Regions from separate parts of the Homo sapiens genome. Here region 1 is linked to region 2. The links come from fine-mapping of genetic effects on gene expression. A gene starts in region 2. The other region holds a variant in brackets. All regions are shown on one strand. Distances are from middle to middle.

Region 1 (10,637 bases), 46 kb before region 2:
GGTGCCCTCTTGGTAGGGCGAGGGAGGACAGGACTGGCTGGAGGCTCCAGGAAGGTGCCAGCTCCCCCCGCTGAGCCCCCTCATCCTTCTTCTGTGCTGAGCGGCCCCAGAGAACAGCAGAGGGGACAATCTTTGCCCCCAAATATAATTCAGGGAAACTGAGGTGATGATAAAGGGAGAATCCCCTCCCTGGCCCCTTCCCCTCCTGTAGAAGTGAAGGCGACAAGGGAGAGGAAGAGTAAGGGCCCTGGGACCGTGGTGGCTCAGAGCTCGAGGTCGTTGGAGATGCGGGTGACGAGGGTGCGGAAGGCCAGGGCGGTGCCCGCCACACGGCGGAAGAGAACTCCCCGCAAGCCTGGCCGGGGCAGCTGGCAGACCTCCACTTCGAAGTGGGACAGGGGCTCGGGCCCGCCCGCACCCCCGTGCAGGCAGGCCAGCAGGAACGGCTGTGGCTGGCGGCAGCGGCAGCGGGCGGCTGCTGTGGCCTGGCGCAGAGCTGCCATCAGGGCCTCAGGAGGGCGCGAGCTGGTCAGCTTCACACTCCAGGGGAATCGGAGCAGCCGGGGGGCGGTTTCCGTTTGATCCCAAGGTAGATGGCAACTGAGGCGAGAAGATGTCAGGGGTCAGAGATGGGAGCGAAGAGGAATGTGGTGGAGGGCTGAAGGGACAACTCTTCCCAATTCGGGACACATTCCTAGCCATCCCCTCAAAAAACATCTTCCCCTGTTACCCCAGCGACAGTTTCAACTGGATACAGAGCTGCCCAGCTAGAGACCACACTTTCCAGCCTCCCTTGCAACCAGGTGTGACCTTGTCTGTAAATTCTGGGACATGAGCAGAAGTGAGATGTGCCATCCACATCAGTTCCTTCAAAGAACCTGCATGTGCCAGGCTCTCCTGTCCCACATCTCCCAGGAGCTGGACTTAGCAGTGGCACAGGCCAGCCTCAACTGTGAAGATGACAAGGGCTCCAGGGAATCGGGATGCAATAACCTGGGGACCTGAATGACCGCATAGATCACAGTGGCCTTACCAGCCTGGCTTGGCCACATGGTTTGAATGTTTGAATGAGAAATTTCTTTTTCCTTTTCTTTTTTTTTTTTTTTTTGAGACGGAGTTTTGCTCTTGTTACCCAGGCTGGAGTGCAATGGAACGATCTCGGCTCACCACAACCTCCGCCTCCTGGGTTGAAGCGATTCTCCTGCCATAGCCTCCTGAGTAGTTGGGATTACAGGCACGCGCCACCACGCCTGGCCCCAGCTAATTTTTGTATTTTTAGTAGAGACACGGTTTCACCGTGTCAGCCAGGATGGTCTCGATCTCCTGACCTTGTGATCTGCCCGCCTCGACCTCCCAAAGTGCTGGGATTACAGGTGTGAGCCACTGCGCCCGGCTTTTTTTTTTTTTTTTTTTTTTGAGACAGAGTTTCGCTCTTGTCGCCCAGGCTGGAAGGCAATGACACAATCTTGGCCCACTGCAACCTCTGCTTCCCGGGTTCAAGCAATTCTCCTGCCTCAGCTTCCCAAGTAGCTGGGAGAACAGGCACCACGGCCAGCTAATTTTTGTATTTTTAGTAGAGACGGAGTCTCACCATGTTGGGCAGGCAGGTCTTAAACTCCCGGCCTCAGGTGATCCACCTGCCTTGGCCTCCCAAAGTGCTGGGATTACAGGCGAGAGCCACAGTGCCCGGCCACTTCTTAGTTTTTTTGAGACAGGGTCTTGCAATGCAGTAGTGCAATCACAGCTCACTGCAGCCTCGACCTCCTGGGCTCAAGTGATCCTCCTGCCTTGGCCTCCTGAGTTGTTGGAATTACAGGCATAAGCCACTGTGCTCGGCCTCTGGGGGCTTTTTGATTGTCACATGTCTTAGGATGGGAGCACTGCTGGCACTGACTAGGTTGGGGATGGGGTAGGTCAGGAATGAAAAACATTCTCCAATGTGCAAGAGGGCCCTGCACAACAAAGAAACGTCCCGCCTGAAGTACGAGAGTGCTGCTCTACATGAGCATCCCAGGACTAGCCTCCCTTGTTCCGGTGGGGCCGCCCCTCAGCTTGGGTGAGCACGACTCAGCTCTGCCAATGATAGCATTCTACTTCCCGGCCACTGTGCTTGGGTCAAGGGTGACCACATGACCAGGTCTGACCAACCAGAGTACTTCTCCTCTCTGGCTGCAGGCATTGGTTTAGGAATGAGCATGTGACCAAGTCCCAACCAATGAGAGTCAGCCCTGGCAGTTTGTTGCAGCTGCTGGGAAGGCTCCGGTTTCCACTTGGGTCTCTAAACCGGGAACTCAGACAAAACCAGGGCTTGGCAAACTCCAGTGCTGTCTGCTTTTGTAAATAAAGTTTCATTGGAACACTGCCATACCCATTTGTTTTGTGTTGAATATGACTGCTTTTGCACTACAATGGCACAACTGAACAGGCGTGACACAGGGTGCCTGGCCCTCAAAGCCTAAAATCTTCATGATCTGGGTCCGTACAGATGTTTGCCTCCTGCTGGCCCTGAGCTGCCAGCAAACATTGTGCCATGACTGGATGAGAGGCAAAAGGAGGTGGGGGCATTGACCAGAAGAGGAGTTGAGTTGTGGATGGGATGAGGCTTTTTTTTTTTTTTTTTTTTTTTTTTCAGACGGAGTTTCACTCTTGCTACCCAGGCTGGAGTGCGATGGCACAATCCAGCTCACCGCAACCTCTGCCTCCCGGGTTCAAGCGATTCTCCTGCCTCAGCCTCCCGAGTAGTTGGGATTACAGGCATGCGCCACTACGCCCGGCTAATTTTTGTATTTTTAGTAACGACGGGGTTTCTCCATCTTAGGCTGGTCTCAAACTCCCGACCTCAGGTGATCTGCCTCCCTTGGACTCCCAAAGTGCTGGGATTACAGGCTTGGGCCATGGCACCCAGCCGGAGGCTGAAGTTTAAGATGATCAAGGGAAGGTGCTTGGGGTTGGGTGGGAATGAGAGGAGCTGGCAGAGAAGGCTGGGGCCACAGGGCATTTCAGGAAGTTGGCCTTGCAGGATGAGACTGGGGCCCCATCTAATGCCCTGGGGTAAGTGTCGGGAGGTGCTGAGGCAGGAGAGGGGAAGTGGCAGTCAGGGGTAGGCCCAAGCACTCACCTTGTGACCTCAGGTCCCCCGATTCTCTCAGGTTCGTCTGCGACCCTAGGGGAGGGGAGGGGGACAGAGTGTCTAATCTGGACATAGGGAACCCACCTCCCGCAACCCACTGCCTCTGGGACTCCAAGCAGCCCCTGCCTCAACCCCAGTCCCTCCGGGCTGGTGAGGGCCTGGAGTCAGGATTTGATCTCCTTGTCCATCCCCATAACGGGGCTCATTCTGAAATGGTTAGTGCAGGTCACAGGAAAGATACTGAAGAATGTGGAAGATGAAAGGGAGGGGAGTGGGCAGAGACACACCCTTACATAGATAAGTGGCCACAGAGAGAAAGAGAGAGACACACGCACGTGTGCACACACACACACTCCCTCGCTCACATATACATTCATGCTTTGCTCAAACAACACCTCCTTCGTGAGGCCTGCCCTTTTTTCTTTTTTTGAGACAGAGTCTCACTCTGTCATGCAGGAGTGGCGTGATCTCAGCTCGCTGCAGCCTCAACCTCCCAGGCTCAAGCAATCTTCCTGCCTTGGCCCCTGAAGTAGCTGGGACTACAGGCGCGTGCCACATCTGCTTTTTGTTTTTTGTTTTGTTTTGTAGAGATGGGGCTTTGCCACATTGCCCAGGCTGGTCTCAAACTCCTGGACTCAAGTCATCTGTCCAAAGTGCTGGGATTGCTGGCCTGAGCCACCTCATCCAGAGGCCTGCCCATTTAATGCTGCACCCCATCCCTTCCCCACACCCCTTATTCCCCTCCCTGTTCAATTTTTTTTTTTTTTTTTTTTTTTTTTAGAGACAGGTTCTCCCTCTGTTGCCAAGACTGATGATCATAGCTCACAGCAGCCTTGACCTCCTGCGTTCAAGTGATCCTCCTGCCTCGGCCTCCCAATTCCATGGGAATACAGGTGCAGTCACCACGCCCGGCCAATTTATTTACTTTTTTGTAGAGATAGGATCTTGCTACGTTGTCCAGGCTGGTCTTGAACTTCTGGGCTCAAGTGATCCCCTCGCCTCAGCCTCCCAAAGTGCTGTGATTACAAGCATAAGCCACCAAATTTGGCTCCTACTCTATTTTTCTTCTTAGTTACTTCGCACTACCTAGCAGTCTATATAGTAAGTATATTTTACTTATTTCTTTGTTTTTTGTCTAGATCCCTTAGTAGAATGTTGGGTCTGCCAGGGCAGGAGTTTTGTACATTTTGCTCACCCTCTACTACAGGGCCTAGGACAGTGCCAGGCACACAGTAGGGGCTCAATGAATAATAGCAATTAATAACTAATACACATGTAAAGCACTTTCCAAGGCAATGTTCTACGCTCAGTCCATACGTCACTTCATTTAGTCCTCACAATAACCCTAGGAGACAGGTATTGTTATTACTATACCCATTTTACAGAAGAGGAAAACCAGGCCCAGAGACCTTGAGTGACTTGCTCAAGGTCACTTGGCAGAGCTGCCATTTGAACCCCCGAGTCTGGCTCCATAGGCTGTGCTTCTGTGAGTAAATGAACAACCAGACCCCACGCACAGACCCTCACATCCACAGAGCCCCCTCCCAATGCCCGCACACACAGGTCAGACATGCAGGCAGGGAGGCAGAGCCAGCGAGAACAGGGCATGGACGGGACTTACTGATCTTGGATCCCTGGGGCAGAGAGGCGCCCGAAACACAGCGGTTAGAGTTCTGCCGTTTAGAGGGATCGAGGGTAACCCTGCAGTGTGAGGAGGGAGGTGAGGGGTGACAGGGGAGGAGGAAAGGAGGAGGAGGAGGAGGAAACGAGGAGGAGGAGGAGGAGGAAGAGGAAATGTTGGGGTACAGGAGACAGAGCAGAGTGGAAGACAGGTTAGGTCCCATCGGCCCCCCGCCCCGCCCTGCCCCTGCCATCCCCGCGGAGCTCACCTTCGGGTCAGTTTGGAGGTCAGCTTGGTGAAGAGGTTGGTGGTGGGGCGGGGCCGCCCGGCGGGCAGGGGTGCAGCCTCATGGGCCAGTGTGGGAGAGGCAGGGGGCCCATTCTGCACACCCCCACCACCCCCACCCCCTGCCCGCCGGTCCCGGACCTGGCCACCATGGAAGGTGCTGCGGATGGTGGAACCACGTGCCAGGCGGCTCCGCTCCCCTGATGGGGGTGCCAGGCTGTGACTGGAGGGGGAGGCAGGGGGCACCCGTGGGGTGCCTGAGCTGTGGGCAGAGACAGACAAGTCAGGGTGGGGGACTGAGGCAGGCCAGGGCCCCAGTCCCTTTGATTCTTCACATTCCTGTCCTGAGACCAGGGACTGCAACCAGCCTGGAACTCAGAGACAGGGCTGCAACGTACAGTTGTGCAGGCTGTGCACTATACAATCCTAGCATTATTTTACTGACTCTCTCCTCTCCTATTACCCCTCCTTCAAACTGTCCCTTCTTCAAACTCTACCCGCTCCAAATCATCTCCTATCACAACTCTCCTCTCTCTAAACGCAGCAACTGAATAGATGCACAGACATTTTTGGGTGACTTCCTTGCTATTTGCCGAAACCTCAGGAACCAAATCAACTTGGCAAACACTTTGCTATCTGAACTCTCACCATCTAAAATCAGGAAAGGGATAGATGTAAAGGTCAAGGATACCTGTATTCACTATGGTAATCTGGGCAGTGGGGGTTCCACTGTCCCAGGACCCTCCTCCAGCCCCTCGGACCCTCCTAGTCGACAGCAGGGGCCAGACCTCCATCTCCTGAGTTCAATTCTCCTGCCTCACCCTCCTGAGTAGCTGGGATTACAAGCGTGTGCCACCATGCCTGGCTAATTTTTTTTTTTTTTTTTTTTGAGACAGAGTCTCACTCTGTCACCTAGGCTGAAGGGCCATGGGGCAATCTTGGCTACTGCAACCTCTGCCTCCTGGGTTCAAGTGATTCTCCTGCCTCAGCCTCCTGAGTAGCTGGGACTATAGGCATGCAGCACCACGCCTGGGTAGTTTATGTATTTTCAGGAGAGATGGGGTTTCACCATGTTGGCCAGGCTGGTCTCAAACTCCTCACCTCAGGTGATCCACTGGCCTTGGCCTCCCAAAGTGCTGGGATTCCAGGTGTGAGCCACTGCGCCCAGCCCAGACCTCCAATTTCTATCCTCCCAGGGACTCCAGGCCCAGCCTGGATCTCAGAGAAGAATCCTGATTGTGGCAGAGGCTGTTACTTCTCCCTTAGAATCCATCCTCCCTGTTTCGTTCTTGGTAACCAAACCCCTAAGAGTATGAGCACTGCACATGGCCACCCAGCCAGAGACTACATTTCCCAGACTCTCTTGCAGCTAGAGATGGTTATGTGACCATGCTCCGGCCAATGGGATATAAGCAGAAGTGCTCTGTACCATCTCTGGGTGACGCCTTTACAAAGAGTTGTTGCTTGTCCCCTACTCTTTCCCCACTTCTTCCTGATTGGGAAATGATGGCTGCTGGTGCAGCGGCCTCAGTCCCAGAGCTGGAAACTCATTTTGGGGCTGGAAGAACTTACCTGGGTCCTTGGAGGACCCTCCGGACTAAACGTCCTTTTTATTTAAATTACTCTACCCTGGGATCTCTTTGTTTTTATTACAGCAGCTAGCTGAGTCTATACTTTTTATTTTTTGTTGTTTTTAAATTTTTTTTTAATTTTTGATTTTTTTTGTCTGAGTCTGTAATTTAACTGTTCCACT[A/G]TCTCTTGAGCAGAACTGGAAGGCCATGTACTACAGTGATTACAAATAAGATTCTGGAGTCAAGTCTGGAATCTGCTTCTTGACTTACCAGCTGTGTGGCCTTGGATAAGTTACTTAACCTCTCTGTGCCTTATGTCCTCAGCTGTAAAATGGAGATATTAGGATCTACCTCACAGAGTTGTTAGGGGCACTGAGCCAGGCAATAGACATAGAAGCCTGGCATGTAGCTGCTGCTTCATGAATGTTCACTATTGTTATTTGATAACCACCAAAAAAAAGCACTCTCAAGTCACTGAATGAAGGCCTCCTAAGCATCAGACCCAGTGCCAGGTACAGGACACACCTGATCTCTACTGCATCTCTATAATGGGGCCTGGAAGTGGACAGCATCAGCCCTTTTTTTTATGAGACGGATTCTTGCTGTGTGGCTCAGGCTGGAGTACAGTGGCGCAATCCCAGCTCACTGCAACCTCTGCCTCCCAGGTTCAAGCGATTCTCCTGCCTCATTCAGCCTTCTGAGTAGCTGGGATTACATGCACATGACATCGTTCCTGGCTAATTTTTGTATTTTTAGTAGAGACAGGGTTTCATCATGTTGGCCAGGCTGGTCTCGAACTCCTGACCTCAGGTGATCTGCCCACCTCGGCCTCACAAAGTGCTGGGATTACAGGTGTGAGCCACCATGCCCGGCCAGCATCAAGCCCATTTTACCGAGGAGGAAACAGAGGCACAGGGATTTACCCGGTCATTCTGCTAGCAGTGTGAGCACAGAGGTAAGATTCGAACTCAGAACTGAGTATTCACAGAATCGTGACTTTTTTTTTTTGAGATGGAGTCTCGCTCTGTTGCCCAGGCTGGAGTGCAGTGGCGTGATCTCGGCTCACTGCAAACTCCGCCTTCCAGGTTCACGCCATTGTCCTGCCTCTGCCTCCAGAGTAGCTGGGACTACAGGTGCCCACCACTGCACCCAGCTAATTTTTTTTTTTTTTTGGTATTTTTAGTAGAGACGGGGTGTCACCATGTTAGCCAGGATGGTCTCGATCTCCTGACTTCTTGATCCACCTGCCTCAGCCTCCCAAAGTGCTGGTATTACAGGCATGAGCCACTGTGCCTGGACAGATTTGTGACTGTTAACTACCCCATTCCTCTGCCCACACCCAGTGGGAACACCTGCACCCACTAATCAGGTGCATCCCAGAGTGTGCCCTGGTGTTGGCCATCAACCTGCCCTACAGCCCTGGTGGGGGGCAGTGTCCTCATCCTGGAGCTGGCCCCATTCTAGCTGGCCTTGACCTGTGATGTGAACCAATCCCTTCCCTCTCTCTGCTCCAGCCAGTCTGAACTGGTTTCCCTCCCTTGCCAGCTGGAAGAGACCTCACAGACTCAGGCCAACAAGCCGGAAAACCAGCCAACCAGATGACGCTGAAGCTGTGACATTCTGGGGCTTCTCTCGAGTTCTAAAAATGGATCATTCAAAAAATCAATTCAGGTTCCCAAGGCTTGTAGGCGGAGAACAGGGCCAACTGCTTTCCTGGTGCTTAAGACTAATTAATTAAGTGGGGAGGATTTTCAGGGGGGTACATGGGTCGATTCTGCCAAGGGCAGGGCAGATACACTCACTCTCTGGTCCCCATGGCACCAGCCTCCAATGCCTATCATCTCAGATCAAGGGAGGTCCTGTTCACCTACCCCCTACTTCCCACCCCTCACCCTGTTGCTGCCCCCTCCGTACCTGTTTTCTTTCCCATTTGGCAACAGTGACGGGCGCTCAGCCCCCGGGCGTTCTGTGCAAACGTAGGTGTTTCTGCGGGTCATCATGCTAGGAGGGAGGTTGTTCTGCAGGAGACACAGCCAGGAAGGGAGTGAGGGGGTGAAGACATGCCCCTGAGCTTCTCCCTCTTCCCTTCTCTGCCCTCCCCATCGATGAATAAGTCAGGGGCTCATGTGGGAACCCAGGGTGAGTAGGAGATGGTGAAAGGTCCCAAAGATGTGAAAGGTTCATGAGTAATCCCAGCCACCGAGGCTGAGTCAGGGGAGACCCCTGGAGACCGGAGAAGAGGGGGGCACTGAGGGAAAACGAGGCAGGGAAGGTTTCCAGGGGGCATCCTTGTCCACCGCTCTTCTCCCAGCAATGCCCACCTTCTTGAGGTCCAGCCCAGCCACACCAAACGTTTGCTAATGTACTTATTCATGCCACATTCTGTCACTGTGACTAGCCTGTGCACTGGCTGTCTCACCTGTTAGAACATTACTCCTACCTTTTCCCCTGACTCACTCCTACATATCTTTCAGGTGTCAGTTCATAATCTACCACCACCCCCGGCCCCAGGCTGAGTCACGTGCCTCCTCCTTTGGGTTCCCACAGGCCCCTGGGCTCCCCACTGCAGCTTCAATCACTGTGCTGTCAATGTCTGTTCTCATATATGTCCCCATCCCATACTGGGCTGTGAGCTCTGGGAACACAGGGAATATCAGGATTATGCTGCCTCATAAACATGTTAGGAAGAGAGCCCTCTTTTTCTATTCTCTGGAAGTTTGTCTAAGGTTAGTGTTATTTCTTCTTTAAGTGTTTGGAAGAATTCCACTGGTGGGAGTCATCCAAGCCAAAAATTTTCTTTATAGGGAAGGTTTTCAGTTACGAATTCAATTTCTTTAACAAGAATATAAGACTGTTCAGGTTTTCTATTTCTTCTTGTGTCAGTTTTGATACAGTGTGTTTTTAAAGTAATGTGTCCATTTCATCTAAGCTGTTAAATTTATTGGCACAAAGTAGTTCCTAATATCATCTTACTATCTTTTAATGTTAGAACAAAGTTCCCCTTTTCATTGTGGATACTGGTGATTCATGTTTGCTGTCTTTTTTCCTTAATTGATTTTTACCAGGGGTCCATTGGATTTTATTTATTTATTTATTTTTTTGGACAGAGTTTCACTCATTTTGCCCAGGCTGGAGTGCAATGGCATGATCTCAGCTCACTGCAACCTCCACCTCCCAGATTCAAGTGAACCTGCCTTAGTCTCCCGAGTAGCTGGGATTACAGGTGTGGACCACCACATCCAGCTAATTTTTTGTATTTTTGGTAGAGATGGGGTTTCACCATGCTGGCCAGGCTGGTCTCAAACTCCTGACCTCAAGTGATCCACCCGCCTCAGCCTCCCAAAGTGCTGGGATTACAGGCATGAGCCACCACGCCCAGACTGATTTTATTAATCTTTTCAAAAAACCAACTTTAGGTTTTGTTGCTTTATTGTACCTCTTCTTTCTCCTTCACTGATTTATTCTCTTTAATGCCTCCTCCCTTCTACTTTTTTTGAGATGGGGTCTTGTTCTGATGCCTAGGCTGGAGTGCAGTGGGGTGATCATGGCTCACTGCAGCCTCGACCTCCTGGCCTCAAGTGGATCCTTTCACCTCAGCCTCCCAAGTAGCTAGAACCTCAGGCATGTGCCACAACACTTAGCTAATTTTTATTTTTGGCAGAGACAGGGTCTATGTTGTCCAGGCTGGTCTTGAACTCCTGGGCTCAAGCAATCCTCCTGCCTCAGCCTCCCGAACTGCTGGGATTACAGGCATGAGCCACCAATTCCGGTCCCTTCTACTTTCTTTGAGGTTTATTTGCTTTTCCTTTTTTACCTTCTTAAGGTGTGGGTTTCGTTTAGCAATAACAATAGCTCTCATTCACTGAGTGCTTACTGTGCCAGTATGTGAAGTACTTCACGTATGAGATCTTACAAGATCCTCACAATGACCCAGGTTCTTTAATGAGCCCATTTCACATAGTGAGATATCAAAGATCAGAGAGGTGAAGTTACTTGCCCAAGGTCACACGGCTCATTAATGTAATTCAAA
Region 2 (10,637 bases):
CTAACATTTGATTCCAATCACTGTTACCCCAGATTGGACTCCAAACATTGTAACCAAGTCTTATTTTTTTTCTTTTTGACACAGAGTTTCACTCTTGTTGCCCAAGCTGGAGTGCAGTGGCCCAGTCTGGCTCACTGCAACCTCTGCCTCCTGGGTTCAAGCGATTCTCCTGCCTCAGCTTTCCCGAGTAGCTGGGATTACAGGCATGTGCCACCACACCTGGTTAATTTTGTATTTTTAGTAGAGACGAGGTTTCATCATGTTGGCCAGGTTGGTCTTGAACTCCTGACCTCAGGTGATCCACCCACCTCGGCCTCCCAAAGTGCTGGCATTACAGGCCTGAGCCACCACCCCCTGCAGGGTAACCAAGTCTTTCACTGGCCCTGAGACCTGGTTGAATCCCTGTTATCCTCCTTCCATGGGAAACACTGTTGCTTCTGCCACCCCCTGAAACACCCAGGGCTTGAGAAGCGCCCTGACTTGCTGTCTCCCACACCATGGCTTCTCTCCTCCTGATGTTCTGTTCCTACTGTCCTGTCCCTCCCTGGCCTCTCTCCCCCGCAGGTCACCTGCCTGCTCTGAGCTGCCCTGGCCTGATTGGAAGCCCCAGGGACTGTCTCCCTTTCAGGGCTGGGGCTCAGGGTGCCTGAGGCCTCCCGCCAAGGCAGTTCTGCCTGTGCCCTTCCGGCTGGGAGTGGGAAGCAGGAGGACAACAGGAGGGGAGGAAGAAAGGCCAAGAGGCTGATGGGCTGGGGGCCCAAGTCTCTGAGAAAGACACTGCCGGGCCACTTGATAGCAACGACAACTAACGTTTAATTAATGCTGGTCATTGATGCAATATGAGGCCATTACCACACTATTATCTCCATTTTACAGGTGGGGAAAGTGAGACCCGGACCCACGATCTGAACCCAAACAGTTTCCACCAGTATTTTTTTTTTTTTTTTTTTTTTTTGGCAGAGTTTCACTCTTGTTGCCCAGGCTGGAGTGCAATGGCACGATCTCAACTCACTGCAACCTCCACCTCCTGGGTTCAAGCAATTCTCCTGCCTCAGCCTCCCGAGTGGCTGGGATTACAGACGCCCGCCACCACAACCGTCTAATTTTTGTATTTTTAGTAAAGAGGGGGTTTCACCATGTTGGCCAGGCTGGTCTTGAACTCCTGACCTCAGGTGATCTGCCCACCTCGGCCTCCCAAAGTGCTGGGATTACAGGCATGAGCCACCGTGCCCGATAGTTTCCACCAGACTTGATGCTCTTCTCTGTCACAATACCACACTGCCTCTCACACCTGAACCTTTTTTTTTTTTTTGAGACAGGGCCTTGCTCTGTTACCCAGGCTGAAGTGCAGTGGTGTAATCAAGGCTCACTGGAGCCTCAACTGCCTGGGTTCAAGCAAATCCTCCCATCTCAGGCTCCTGAGTAGCTGGGACCACAGGAGTGCACCACCACACACAGCTGATTTTTAAATTTTTTTGTAGAGATGGAGTCTTGCTATGTTGTCCGGGCTAGTCTTCAGCTCCCAGGCTCAAGCCATCCTCCTGCCTGGGTCTCCCAAAGTTCTGGGATTATAGGTGTGAGCTACCACGCTGGGTCATGAACCATTTCTACAAAGCAGCTCATGCTATGGACCAAGTCCTGTGTAAACAGGTAACTCGCCTACACTTAATTCCTGCAGTAGCCCAGGGAATGACTCCATGTTCCAGCAGAGAAACTGAGCCTTGGAGAGGGAAGGTGCCATGTGAAGGTCACACAGTCCATTCACAGGGGCAGAAAGACAACCTCCCCACAGCTGGGCAGTTCCAACCACCACGGCCAGGGCTCTAACCACGCGTCCGCCACTGCCTGCCGTGCCCTCACCCTGGCCTCCAATGTGGGTCCAATTATGATCTGCAGTCTTCAGACGGGGACACCCAGGCTCAGGCAGGGGGAGTCCCTCCCCCAAGGTCACAGGGCAGATGGAGCAGAGTGCTGGGATGCGAACCCCGGCCTGCTGATTCCTCCTGAGTGCTGAGCCAGGCTTCCCCACAGGCCCAGGCTTCTTCCCAGGAGAGACCAGGGAGGCAGGTGGAGATCCTGGAGATAAGGCCTCCGATCCCCACCAAGATAAGGACCTGGAGAAGAAGCCCTGTCAGGTGGCGCCAGGGCAGCCAGCTGGAGGTGGGATGGCACCACGCTGAAGGCAGCATGGCTGAGGGACCCCTGCGAGGGGCAGCTGGGGCAGTGGGTGACAAAGCCCCTGGGGGCCGGGGGTGGGAGCTAAAATTGGCCTGCACCACCAGCTGGCCTGGCTCCCTCCCGCCCGGCTGGCGCCCCAACACCCGGGACTGTTGCTAGGGAACCTGGGGAGGCTGGCCCCCTGGTGGGGGGCCCTGGAACTTGGGGTGGGGGAGCATGACCCCACGTGGCTGTAGCCATGGTAACCAGGTAACAGGAGAGGGGGCTGCAACCTCCCATTCCAGAGGCAGGCAAGTGACTCCCCACCAGGACTGACAGGCAGGTCTTAGTGACAAGAGTTGGAGGAGAGAAAAGGGGATTAGCCATCCTCAAATCCGCACCATGCACGCATCTTAACAACCCAGGGAACAGCAAGTCTTCATTAGGCGTTCCACTTAACAGACAAGGAAACCAAGGCTCAGAGAGGTAAGGTTACTTGCCCGAGGTCACACAGCTAGGGAGGGACAGAAACAGGATGTGAACCCAAGTTTATCTGAACAATTAAAGTAGTGCTAATAACCACAACAGCCACGACACATGCCAGGCCCTGTGCACCTTAGTCACATCACGTCGCTGGCTCCTGCAAACATCCCTAACAGTGGGGGGCCATCATCAACCCGATTTAGAGATAAGGAAACTGAGGCTGCAAGCTGGGAGTGAATCTGCAGGCTCACTCAACAACCAATAACAGCCCTGAGCTGAGAATCCACGGGCTGTCTGACTCATACCCACAGCCACAATAGCAGCTGGCATTTGTGGAGTGCTTCCTAGGTGCCAGCCTTCGCCTGAATCGAGTAAGCCTTGGAGGCACTCAAGCGGTCACCCCTATTTTCCAGGGCAGGAAACTGAGGCTCAGAAAGGGAGAACTGGTTGTCTGAGGACACAAGGCAAACCAGCTGGCCATGTCAGCATTGGAACCCAGGACTGTGGAGCCCCTGGCACCTCACTGTAGATTGTAGTGACCAAGGAACAGAGGTGGTAGGCATTTCATTAGACTCCAAATTGGAGTTCTGGCCCATAGTGATGATGCGGGGTGGTCTCTGTGAGGGAGGGATCTGCAAGATGAGGAAGGGACAGATATAAATCTCTCTGATGGTGTGTGTGTGTGGGGGGGTCTGTCGGAGGTGAGGGAAACAGGGGGAAGGGGAACAGGGACCTGGCAGAAGGATTTGGAGAAAGCCACAAAGATCCCAGGTGGGGAGAAGTCTAGGATTGGGTGGTGGGCAGGTCTTTGGAAGTGATCAGTGATCAGAGACACAGGAGATGGGGAGGGGCCTCTCTGGGAAGCAGTGTAGGGGCAGGGGGCGCCTGGGAATGGTGGAAAGTGACAAAGCCATGGGGGCAGTGGAAGTCAGAGGCCAGGAATCCCTGGGTCTTGGGGAAGCTCCTAGGAATCAGAGAAGGGGGCTTCTAGGAGAAGTCCTTGAAACCAGAGAAGGGTCTGGGGGGCCTGGAAGTATGGGGTAGGAACTTCTTGGGCAAGGAGCAGCCCAGATGAATAAAGGCTGAGCCCTGGGGAAGGTCAAGGGGTCTAGAAATTTGGGGAGAAAGCTTCCAGCAGATTGACCCAAGGGAAAAGGGCTTGAAACCAGGGCAAGACGAGAGGCTTCAGGTCCAGGAGTTTTCTGGAAGAAGGATCTGGGGCCAGGCCCTGTAGCTGAGGAAGGCCTCTGAAGCTGAGGAGGGGGCTTCCTTGGAAGGCCAGACTCCCAGCAAGGAAGGGGGAGGCCCTGGGGCAGGAGAAAGGACGGTGGTTTGTGGGGAAGGGGTCTGAGTTTGGCCTAGCAGGGGGTCCAGAGGTTGGGGGTTGGGGAAGGGGCTGCCTGAAGCTGAGAAGTTGATAGAGGGCGGATGAGGCCTGGAGTCAGACTGGTCCAGGGCCTAGAAATACCAGCCTGGGTGAGGTGAGGGCCTAGAAGTTGGAGGCCAAGGCTTCCTGGGAGAGGAAGAGACCAGAAAGGGTCCAGGTGGCATCTGGGGGCCCCGGGGTGCTGGGATCTAGGGACAGGGCTGCTTGGAAGATGGGGACCAGGCCTGGGACGGGAGAGACCTTGAAGAAGCCAGAAAAGGGCCGGGGCCCAGGAGAGGTGGAAACCAGCTTCCTGCCAGGGGCTGCCCACAGGCGCCCTGGGTGCGTCCTGGAGGGGCAGAGGGCTGGGAATAAGAGGAGGGGGGCTCCTGGGGAGCCGGCACCCAGCCCCAGACAGGGAAGGCCGGAGCCAGAGGCAGGACTGGGCCAGGCCCTGCTGAGAGTGCCAGGGCCGGGCCTTGGGGGGTCAGGGGCCCTGCAAATCCGGGAGGGGGCGAGGTGTCGGACGCGGACGGCCTGGAGGGGAAACGGCTTAGCACAGGCAAGAGAAGGGAGGGGCTCCTGGAAGCAGGGGAAGGGGCTTCCTGGAGGGAACAGACCCGAGCGGAAGCGGTCTGCACGGGGACAAGAGAGGGGTCCCGAGAGAGGGGCGCCCCCAGGGGTCGGGCTGGGCTGGAAAAGGTGGGGAGGGTGGAGAGGCCTGGAAGTCCGGGAGGGGTCGAGAGGTGACGAGCCGGGTCGGGCCCAGGAAACGAGGGTAGGGGCTCGCGGGGCGAGGGGTACAACGGGGAGAAGGGTTTGGCGGCTGGACCCAGCCAGGGCTCCCCAAGGGGCCGGGCCCCACTCACCGTGTCCGAGTTCCGATCGTTGCCCGGGGCCAGCACCGTCCGCGAAGACATCTTCTCCGGGTCCCGGGGGGCAGGGGCGGCCGGGTGGGGGGGGCGGGGGTCCCAGGGTCCCCTCTCTTCCCCTCCCCCCCCGCCGGCCTGGGGACGCGAGCTCAAAAGCTGGGCGCCGAGAACGCCCGGGTCCGCGCGGCGGGAGAGGGGGCAGGGCGGGGGAGGGGAAGGGACGCCGAGGGTCCTAGTGGCCCCGTGCAGCGGGGACCCCGGGCGCCATGGGGGCGGCGGGCAGGCGGGCGGGCGGGGGCCGCGGAGGGGGCGCGGAGCCGGCCCAAGCGGCGGCGGAGGGAGGCGGTGGAGGGGCTGGGGAGGGAGGAAGGGACGTCAGGGGGAGGGGCGGGCAGGGCGGGGCGCCGGGACCCCGCCCCCCGCCGCCGGCCCTTAAAGGCGCAGGCCCGGGCTGGTCGGGGCGCCGGGGGCTCCGGGGGCTCCGGGGGCGGAGGCGGGTCTGGGCACGCCGGCGGGGAGCGTGTTCTCGCCCGAGACGAGAGGCGCACTGGAGAGGAGAGAAGGGGAGAGAGAGGCCGGGGCAGAGCGCCAGAGACGCAGAGAGAGAGATCGAGAGACGTAGAGATAGAGAGACACGAAGAGAGAGAGACGAGTTACAAAAGGGTGGAGAGGCGCAAGGAGATGAAGGAAGAGCCAGATGACAGAGAGAGAGAGACGCAGGGAGACAGAGACAGAGAGACCCAGAGACGCAGAGGGACAAAGACTGAGAGAGACCCCACACACACACAGGGAGAGACAAAGAGATACAGAGACGCAGAGATCTGTGAAGAGATAGAGATAAAGGGACTGAGCCAGAGAAGACCCCAGAGGCGCTGCCCACATTGTCCCTCCCCCTGGCCCATTCTCTCCCCAGTTGGCGGGGGGGAGCGGGGGAAGCTCTCCCCTCGGAGGCCTAAGGGTGGGGTGGGTGAAGGGGATGGTGTGCGGGGCTTGGCCACTGCTGAGGGCTCAGTGACCTCCCTAGTCAGGCTGCCTCCACTCAGCCACATAGATCCAGACCCGCAGGTTGGGGCTGCAGCATCCACTCCTTTGCACCCCAGCTGGGGTGTGGGGACCCTCTCTGTCCACCTGTATGACCCGGGGCAAGCACTTGCCCTTTCTGGGCTTCACTTTCCCAGTTTGTAAAGTGAAAGGAAGAATCCGTGTGTTGCTCACTGGCAGGTGCGAAGGAACCCTGTGCAGGTATTCGCCTGCAGGGCACAGCCACTCCCCATGCGGGCAGGCTGAGACCAGAGAGGACAAGAGCCTCTCGGAGGCCACACAGCGCTGTGGGGACCATCCATGCTCTGTGGACCAGGGTGGGATGAAAGAAAGACAGGCATTACATAGTCTTGGCCTGGGAGTCACATGGTTTTGGGAAGGGGTCTGTGCCCTGCCTTCTTCTATCTGAGGCTTATTTTCCTGAGCCTCAGTTTCCCCTTCTAAAACAGCAGTGTGCTGGATCTGGCTGGAGCGAGCTGATTGTTATGTCTCAGGAATTTTGGAACTGGTTGTTAAACACAGCCATTATTAAAAATTAAATTATGCAAACATACAATTAAATTACATTAAAGGTACAAGTAATACATACTCATCACGTCCTAGTTATCTTACTACATTTGCCATTATCTGTGATCTTGAGGTTACCTACGTCTATTGTAGCTGCACAGTAAAATTACTATATAATGGGGGGCAAAAATGCCATGTGATATCACCTTGGTAGCTTGAAATTAGCCATGGTGGGAATATTTACACCATGGAAATTGGCAAATGCTACAAATTAAGGCTCCACACCCCCACCTGCAGAGAGCTGGGGGTGTTTTGTTTTGCTTTGCTTTGTTTTGTTTTTGAGACAGGGTCTCACTGCATTACCCAGGCTAGAGTGCAGTGGCACGATTATGGCTCACCGCAGCCTGGACATCCCCGGCTCAAGCAATCCTCCCAGCTCAGCCCCACCAAGTCACTGGGACTACAGGTGTGCACCACCACGCCCAGCTAATTTTTTGTAGCCATATTGCCCAGGCTGATCTCCAACTCTCAGGCTCAGGCGATCCTCCCACTTCGGCCTCCTAAAGTGCTGGGACTACCCTGCACTCAGCCAAAAGCTGGTTGTGAAAGCACAGCACTGCTTGATACTATGAGCAACACAGACTCATGGCAGTTGCCCTTGTGCCAGGCTCTGAGCAGTTTCTCCTTTCTGCCACCCCAAGAGGTAGGGAGCATCTTTATCAATCCCATTTGCAGATGAGGAAACAGAGGCCCAAGGAAGGGAGAAACGTCACACGCTGAAGGTCACACGGCAAATTAGTGGCAGGGCTACAATTTGAATCCAAGTGCTCCCAAGTTCCAGAACTTGGACCCTCTCTCAACCACTGTGGTTTCCTGTCTCCGAAAAATAATAGCAGCAACCTCAGGCTGCTACTATTTTTATTTGTCAATTTGTTTATATTTATTTGTTATTTTAATGTTACTGCTAACAAATAAATGAGAATCTTTGAGTAAAGTGCTTCACAGGGGACCAGATTCAAAATTCATATGTGGGGACATTATTATTACTATTTGGCAAATATGGCCCGAGGAGCCTCAGGGACAGTGGCAGAGAGGGTGGAGTTCCGGGGTAGTGTTCTAGACGTACTGTGATCCCAGGGACGCCGCAGGGTGAAAGTGGGGGTCTTGGGGGTAGGCTAGAGGGGCTGAGCGCCCCCAACCCGTTCCCTGCATTGGCGCTGAGAGCTGCAGTTCTACCGTGCACCACACGGGGGCAGCCGATCACCTCCCTACACGCGCCCCACACACTCCAGGGTCCACCCCTGCCCTCCCTTCCCCAACAGCGTCCCCACCCCATTTCCCAGATGTGGGGGGACCGAGGCTTACAGAGAGGGAGGCTGCAAAGTGGATGAACCTTGAAAACAGCATGTGGCCGGGCGCGGTGGCTCACGCCTGTAATCCCAGCACTTTGGGAGGCCGAGGCGGGCGGATCACGAGGTCAGGAGATCGAGACCACGGTGAAACCCCGTCTCTACTAAAAATACAAAAAATTAGCCGGGCGCGGTGGCGGGCGCCTGTAGTCCCAGCTACTCAGGAGGCTGAGGCAGGAGAATGGCGTGAACCCGGGAAGCGGAGCTGGCAGTGAGCTGAGATCGCGCCACTGCACTCCAGCCTGGGCGGCAGAGTGAGAATCCGTCTCAAAAAAGAAAAAAAGAAAACAGCATGTTTAGCGAAAGAAGTCAGACGCAAAAGACCACTTACTGTATGCTTCCATTCATATGAAATATTCAGAATTGGCAAATCCATAGACAGAAAGTAGATTAATGGTTGCCAGGGGTTGGAGGCTGGGGAATGAGAAATGACTGCTGATGGGTACCAGGTTTCTTTTTGGGGTGATGAGAATGTTCTGGAATTAAATAGTGGTGACGCTTGCTGCAACCTTGTGAATATACTAAAACCTACCGGACTCTGTTTGAAAAGGGTGACTCTTATGTATGTGAATTGTATTTCAATAAAAAATAATAATAAAATTTAAAAAGGGGGCTGGACGCGGTGACTCACACCTGTAATCCCCGTACTTTGGGAGGCCAGAACGGGAGGATCACTTGAGCCCAGGAGTTCGAGACCAGCCTGGGCAACATAGTGAGACCCTGTCTCTAAATCAAAATAAAAAAAATAATTTTTAAAAAGGAGGGGGACGGGCACGGTGGCTCACGCCTGTAATCCCAGCCCTTTGGGAGGCCGAGGCGGGCAGATCACGAGGTCAGGAGATCGAGATCATCCTGGCTAACACAGTGAAAACCTGTCTCTACTAAAAAAAATACAAAAAATTAGCCGGGCGCTTGCAGGTGGCAAGCGCCTGCGTCCCAGCTACTCGGGAGGCTGAGGCAGAAGAATTGCTTGAACCCAGGAGGCGGAGGTTGCAGTGAGCAGAGATCACGCCACTGCACTCCAGCCTGGCGACAGAGCAAGACTCCGTCTCTAAATAAATAAATAAATAAATAAATAAATAAGGCGGGGTGGAAATCCTGCACGATCCCAGTACATGATGGGCCACTGCTGACCATGGGTCCGCGGTGCAGAGGCCGAGCTGGGGGGCAAGGCCTGTTCCTCTGCCTCCCGACCTGGTCATCCAGCTAGCCCTTCCTCCACAACCTATGTCTGGTGAATTCATTCCTTCAACTGGGGCATTCAGACCTTTGAATCTTAACCCTTGGATCCAGGAGGGAGCTGTGATCCCTAAGCCCAGCCCCCGATCCTAATGTTGACCCCAACCCTGATCCCAGCCTGGACTTTGCCTAGGCCAGTGATCACGCATCCCCCTCAGGCTGTGCCTGAGCACTTGAACACAGTTTATCTTATTTATTTATTTGTTTGTTTGTTTATTTGAGATGGAGTCTCACTCTGTCTCACAGGCCGGAGAGTGCAGTGGCACAATCTCGGCTCACCGCAACCTCTGCCTCCTGGGTTCAATCGATTTCTTCCGTCTCAGCCTCCCGAGTAGCTGGGATTACAGGTATGCACCACCACACCTGGCTAATTTTTGTGTTTTTAGTAGAGGCAGGGTTTCATCAGTTTGGCCAGGCTGGTCTCAAACTTCTGACCTCAAGCGATCCACCCACCTTGGCCTCCCAAAGTGCTGGGATTATAGGCATAAGCCACTGCAACCAGCCCAGTTTTATTTATTTAAAAAAAATTTTTTTTTTCTTAATTTTTGAGACAGGGTCTCTCTCTGTCACCCAGGCTGGAGCGCAGTGGCGAGATCATGGCTCACTGCAGCCTCCACCTCCCAGGATCAAGTGATCCTCCCACTTCAGCTCCCTTAGTAACTAGGACTACAGCGTGCCACCACACTTGGCTAATTAAAAAAATTTTTTTTTTTGTAGAGACGGGGTCTTGCTATATTATCAGGCTGGTCTTGATCTCCTGGGCTCAAGCAATCCCCCTGCCTTGGCTCCCAAAGTGCTGGAATTACAGGCATGAGCCACCACACATGGCCCTAGCCTTTTAAAGTAACCCTGACTCTCATACCCAACCCCACCCAGCACCAGCTCCAGCCCCAGCCCTCACTTCACTTGGCATCCCAACTCTAGCAGGAAGTCCATCTCCAAACCCACCTCCAACCCTCAGCTTCATTTAAATTCATTTAAATCTTGACTACTGAGGGCCAGGCACGCAGCTAGGCTTATAAAGATGAACAGGATCAACAAAGTGAGCTTTGCTGAGTTTATCTGCAAGGAATCCAGTTGCATCTGATAATTTCAGATTGTAGAAGGTGCAATAAAGAAATTGACAGGCTGGGCACAGTGGCTTACGCCTGTAATCCCAGCACTTTGGGAAGCCGAGGCAGGAGGATGGCTTGAGGCCAGGAGTTTGAGACCAGCCTGGAGAACCTAATGAGACCCGTGTCTCTACAAAAAATACAAAAATTAGCTGGGCATGGTGGTGCATGCCTGTAGTCCCAGCTACTCAGGAAGCTGAGGTGGGAGGATCTCTTGAGTCTGGGAGATCCAGGCTGCAGTAAGCTATTGTTACGCCACTGCACTCCAGCCTGGGCAACAGAGCAAGACTCTGTCTCAGGAAAAAAAAAAAGAAAAATAAATTGACAAAGCAGAGTGACGACTCTGTGAGACGGGACAGTGGAGAACAGAGGAAGAGACTGTGGGGCTGGAACTGGGATGATGAAAAGGAGGGCCTCATGCAGAGACCTGGGTACAGGGGCTTCTAGACAA

What was found.
Region 1: its variant is fine-mapped to the expression of MARK4 in whole blood (INTERVAL, PIP 0.98).

The regions. Positions count from the first base shown.
Region 1 is chr19:45,292,337-45,302,973 of GRCh38, reverse strand. It overlaps MARK4 (microtubule affinity regulating kinase 4), which reads right to left. Exons shown (of 17, transcript NM_001199867.2): 14 at 8,522-8,625; 15 at 5,020-5,298; 16 at 3,119-3,163; 17 at 1-600. The coding sequence ends at 264. Among named protein-coding and RNA genes, the nearest start is that of CKM, 25 kb to the left of the region's middle. The variant A/G (reference allele first, on the strand shown) is at 6,790.
Region 2 is chr19:45,245,878-45,256,514 of GRCh38, reverse strand. MARK4 (microtubule affinity regulating kinase 4) reads right to left here and starts at 5,244. Exons shown (of 17, transcript NM_001199867.2): 1 at 4,876-5,244. The coding sequence starts at 4,926. RefSeq lists enhancers at 3,780-4,336, 10,418-10,637 and silencers at 4,810-4,959, 5,190-5,569.